Regions from separate parts of the Homo sapiens genome. Here region 1 is linked to region 2. The links come from fine-mapping of genetic effects on gene expression. A gene starts in region 2. The other region holds a variant in brackets. All regions are shown on one strand. Distances are between the middles of the regions. Region 1 overlaps ALDH8A1 (aldehyde dehydrogenase 8 family member A1). Region 2 holds the start of ALDH8A1 (aldehyde dehydrogenase 8 family member A1).

Region 1 (2,929 bases), 31 kb before region 2:
TGTTCCAAGTTTCCTCCAAAAGTAGTAGTTATTTTGTTTTTCTTCATCCTTGTACAGATACATTTAGTAGAGCTTACCACATAGCCTTCCCCTAACAAATTCCAAAGACGTCCACAGCCCCCTTATGTAATGAGGTCCAATCAATGATCAATTAGCCATGCTAGTGGCTAATAGACAAGGAGATTATCTCCATAATCTCTCCAAAGATGGCAAATTATGGCTATTTATTTTTGGTTTTGCAGCATTTTTTTTTTAAAGACAAGGTCTCACTGTATCCCCCAGGCTGAAATGCAGTGGAATGATCATGGCTCACTGCAGCCTCAACCGCCTGGGCTCAAGCGATCCTCCCACCTCAGCCTCCCAAGTAGCTGGGGCTATAGGCAGAGGGCACCACACCAAGCTAATTTTTAAACTTTTGGTAAAGACAGGATTTCACCATGTTGCCTAGGCTGATCTCGAACTCCTGAACTCAAGTGATCCACCCACCTTGGCCTCCCAAAGTGCTGGGATTATAGGCATGAGGCACTGTGCCTGATTGCATATTTTTTAAAATTTACCAAATGAAATAATCTGATTATCTGGAGATTCCCAAGAGTTCAATGAAGATGATGAAAGAAACACTATGAAAACATAACCTGGGAGGAGCCTGACAACTGGCATCATTGTTCTATCTTCCTACTTATAAGTCTTTTTTTCCGAGTCCACATTGAAAATAGACAGTATCTCTTCACTAGTGGGTAAAGTTACTAAGAACTGAGGATAAGCTAGAGATAACCTTCTGCCAAGTCAAGGCATAGCTGGAATTCATGCCATGATTTTCATCTACCACATTGAACAACTGATGCCTGCAGCCAGGCATTGGCCATAGTGGCTCCACCATTAGCAAAGATCAGTGTTTAACGGTGATGGTTTTGATCTCAGTGAAGAAGTCGTAAGAGTCCTTGGCTCCCTCTCTACCTATTCCAGAACTCTTCATCCCCCCGAAAGGAAGGTTCAGCTCCCTGATGAGCCAGCAGTTGGTCCAGACCAAGCCAGACTGCAGCTTCTTAGCCACCCGGTGGACGCGCCCCACATTGCTGGACCACACGGTAGCC[G/C]CCAGCCCATACTTAACGTTGTTGGCTCTTTCAATCACCTCCTCTTCACTATCAAAGGGGACGACACACGTCACTGGACCAAATATCTCTTCCGTCATGCAGCAGGATTCATCCTTAATGTCTGTTATCACCGTGGGAAGCATAAAGTAGCCTGCCTGGTTCCTGGCAGGGAGGCTCAACTTATCCACTCCCTCACCGCACCAAATTTGGGCACCTTCAGCAAGAGCTCTCTTGACGTAACTTCTGACCTGCGTGGGTAAAAATCATAATTAGCAATGTCTTACCATGTGGCTTCACACAAATCAGCAGAAAATTCAATGTTTTCTAATCATCTCGGAAGGAGGGATAAGGTCATTCCTAAGAAATCTATGGTCGATTATCTTATCACTCAGCTGCTAAGCCAGAGGGCAGAGGCGCTCCAAGCATCATTTGGGCAGTCACCTTTCATACATAAGGGAGGGAAGTAATTATTTAATGTCTAAGTGCCAGGAACTCAGATAAGTGCTTTTCATACACTCTCACTTGATTGTCTCAAAACATTATTAGCTATTGTTAATCTATTATTATCTTCTATTTGCTGATAGTATAATTGAGTGTAAAAAATATGAATGGTTCATAGAGCTAATAAACAGTAAAGTTAGAATTCACACTCAGGTATATTCTGTAGTTAAATACATGAAAGAATATTTTCTCCCTTTTTGGGAGCTATGTCCATTGCAGAAAATGGGAAGAGAAAGATGTGTAAGATTTAGTTAAAGGCCAGAATGCCCTTTAATAGATGAGCTTCCAGAACAAATCATTTCTAATTTCTAGTCTCATTACTGAATATACTCTGAAAATATATCTAGGTAATATATTTTAGCTAACTATAATGGGAAATAAATTATGTAGCTAGTTAACTCAGTGACTCAGAGATAATGACAGATGTATATTAACAATGGTTGTAGAAATAGCTCATAATAATTATATATATATAAACATTGTTGAAGTCACAATTATATGTTTTTCTACCCCAAGAGGTATTATAAGCAAAAGAGAAGTATAAAAGTAGTCCTAAAAATTAAAAATGTAGAACAGCAGTAAAGAAGTAAACCAAAGACAGGGTAAATTTTGCAATAATATTTTGGATTTTTACTTATCTATCGAGCATTCTGCCCCAGGATTACATTAGAACTCCATTGTAGAACTATATTCAGTGTAGAACTATATGTATATTCTCCATGTAAAATAGAGGTAATATTATTCTATTATTAAATTTGCTCCAAGTTTGTAGAATTAATAAGCCATGAAGTTAAAGACTTTTTTTACAGACAATGTCTCACTCTGTCACCTGGGCTGCAATGCAGTGGCACCACCATGGCTTGCTGCAGCCTTGAAGACTCCTGGACTGAAGAGATCCTCCCACCTCAGCCTCTCGAGTAGCTGAGCCTATAAACACAAGTCATCACGTCTAATACATTTTGTTTAATTTCCTATAGAGATGGGGTCTTGCTATGTTGCCCAGGCTGGTCTTCAACTCCTGGTCTCAAGGGATCCGCCCAAAGTGCTGGGATTACAGGAATGAGCCACCACACCCAGCTCAAGACTTTTTTAAAAAATAGAGCATTTGGTACAGATTTATATTCCCTTCCATTAACTTCCACTCCCAACATCCATAGTGATCTCAAAGCTTTCCCAGAACATAACGCTATTCTAGTTTGTGGGTAGAAACTAAAATAAGTTTGTACCTCTCTTGATCCGTACCCTCTTTCTTTTTTTGAAAATAACTCATCCACACTAATTAAAAGGTTCCAAAGGTGAGTGTCCTGTGTGAATAGGGGAATGGAGGTGCAGCT
Region 2 (2,929 bases):
CCCATAAAGATGTACAATTATTATGTATCAATTTTTTAATTTTTTGTTAAAAAAGGGCTTAATGACTGCAAAGCACAAAGCAAAAGTTGAATAAACGGGAGCCACTGTTAGCAGCACCAGCAACATTTTCCTGAGTGATGTTTTGGAAATTGGACATGCAGTTTGTATGGTAACCATATTTTTCAAGCCGGAAAAAACTATGACTTATGGGATCAGATAGGATATTTGGAAGTTGGATTGCTGAGAAACTGAACATATCTATTACTCTACTAGCTAGCGCATCCATAGCTCATTCTATTTTCTAAAAAGTTATGAGCCATTAGCTGCAGGAAATATTTCAGCTGAATTTGGCATGTTTGTCATTTTTAACTTCACTTTGGCAAACAAGGAAGAGTGGAAAACACAAAGCTGGATTTCCCAGAGCTGTGTTAAGTCATTTGAAGCAAACAAAATTGCAGTTTATAATTTAACCAATGCATTAACCAACATTTGCAAACATTAATCCCTAAGTCTGAAGGTTTACTTTAAATGCAAGACAGATTTGAAGTATTAACAAAAAAGAAAAAAAATAGCAATGTTCTTAAAAAAAAACTTTGCATGGAATATATATTTTTATAGGAAGACTATATTTTAAATAATCTAGTTATTTGTGCCTTAAAAAGAATAAATTATAATTCATAAGGCATTAGATGACTATATATACATCAGCTACATTTACCACTTCAGATATATTTACATTCTCAGTGCAATAATTGATAGCTAATCAAATATATCTCAAATATTTTACAAAATTCTCCAAGTAAAATTAATTCTACATCACCAAAAAAATGTAATGCATATGCCATTAAACACTTTGGATAAGAAAAAAGACGCTGTTAAATCTAACTCCAAAAATATATGGGAATTTGATTTTGAGTTTCATCATTCAAATGATTGATTTTATTTTACTAGGTATTTTGAAGACATGACAAATTATGAGAAGACAATCTAAAACAAAGCCCACAGTTTTTTGCTTGTTTGTTTATTTTAGTAAAGCTATACTTTTTTTTTAATTCCATGGATATAGTGGTAAATTTAAGCAGTGCGTGGTGGAGAAAAGGGAATATTTAACAAAGTGATAGCTCTTACAAATAATACTTTGTACTAGACACTGATTAGGAAATGTTTGAGAATTGCAAAAAAAAACTGCACACAGGGCTGTGTTAGGTTGGCTAGAAAAATGACTTACTTTCTGCATATAGGAAGAGATTTGTTCTAGGTATCATACAGTCCAGTTACAAGGTACATCTTCTGAGAACTAGAATCTTCCTTCTATCATGTTTAACAATCCTACATCTTCCCCCAACTCCCTCTGCTTTTAGAAAACTGTTACCCATAATTGGCCAACATATTAAACACATTTCAGTCTTCTTTAAGTGCATATACTCACCTCGTCTTTTCCACTATTTGGCACTCTGCAATACACTTCCCCTGTTGATGGGTCGTAAGAATCTATATATGAGCTACAAGGTAAAAATTTTCCATCTATGAAGTTTTCCAGCATCAAAAGTGCGTTTGTTCCAGCCATAGCAAGGAAAAATTCTGCCTTTCCTCTTTACGACTGAGCACTCAGGTTGTCCCCACCACTGTCTGGACTCCTGAGTGAGCCTCCCCCTTCCCAGCCCCCATCTTCCCCTTTACCAATCAGTGAATGTGGGAGGGCACCTGACGCTCTCAGAGAGCATTCCAGTCTCCAAACTCAGAACTAAGAGAGTGGCTGAATGTTTCACAGACTTCTAGTACATTACCTGACATGGATAATTGTGTGTAAAAGTAACAGCTACTTACTTATGTGTTCATAGCCCTTTAAATCATCAGAAGGCATCTGTGCATGTGATTTTATTGGGTTCACACCGTAAACTGTTCATTGCTCAAACACTGATTGGATGCCAGGCCCCAAAGCAAGTCCTTTACATGAATTTACTCGTTTATTCCACACAACAATCCTATATGAAGTAACCATTACTTCCTCTCTTTTATAGAAGAAACTGAGCCTTGGAGAGGTTAGACCATTTTTCCAAGGTCACATAGTTAGCAGGGGATGAACTGTAGCCCTTTAATCTCCAAATCATATACTTTTTCCTCAATGCATCACTGCTTACCCTGCAGAGGTAACTGAAGACAGATGCCCTCTTTCCGTGGCTCATCTGTGTTTCTTTACCTTGGCTGCCCTCTCTTGGAAGAGCTGTCTCTCCATCCCAAAACCGGGGCCACAGTGGCTGCTCACATCTTCCTAGATGTGCCATGGAGATAAAGACAAGCCAAAAACATGTGTGACACATATAGCAAGGGCTTCAGATCCCTGATGTAGCTGAGAATTTCTACAAATTGGTAAGAGAAATGAGCACCCCAACAGAAAAGATAAGCAAAGATACAAAAAAGCAATCCATAGGAAAAGGAACACAATTGGCTAATGAATATATTAACAATGTTCAGCCTTGTTGTTAAGCAAGGAATGTGAAATACAGAGGTGGCCTGATTTGCCAATCATACTGGAGAGCATTTTTAAAGATTGAGAACATCTACTCTGTGAGGATGTGGAGAATCATCCCTAGTCCATAGGCGGGAGGGTTCACAGAACACTGCTTGGGGCAATTTGTCAGGGTCTGGTCAATTTCTCTTCTAGGAATCTCTCCTACAGAATTACGTGCTCATGAACAAGTACATAAGTCACAGGACATCCTTTTTTATCATAATTTAAAAATCAAAACAACCTAAAGTCCATCAATTGGAGAATATTAGAGTATAATTGTTATATTCTTAACAGGGAATACTACTTAGACATTAGAAGGATGCATTGTTAAGTGAAAAAATAAAACTAGTGAATAATATATACAGCATAGTTTCTTTGGCTATTTACATGGTTGACAGGAAGCCGTTTTAAACTGCT

What was found.
Region 1: its variant is fine-mapped to the expression of ALDH8A1 in whole blood (TOPMed, PIP above 0.99).

What each region holds. Positions count from the first base shown.
Region 1 is chr6:134,917,526-134,920,454 of GRCh38, forward strand. It overlaps ALDH8A1 (aldehyde dehydrogenase 8 family member A1), which reads right to left. Exons shown (of 7, transcript NM_022568.4): 7 at 1-1,342. The coding sequence ends at 890. Among named protein-coding and RNA genes, the nearest start is that of ALDH8A1, 31 kb to the right of the region's middle. The variant G/C (reference allele first, on the strand shown) is at 1,095.
Region 2 is chr6:134,948,487-134,951,415 of GRCh38, forward strand. It overlaps ALDH8A1 (aldehyde dehydrogenase 8 family member A1), which reads right to left and starts at 1,615. Exons shown (of 7, transcript NM_022568.4): 1 at 1,430-1,615. The coding sequence starts at 1,567.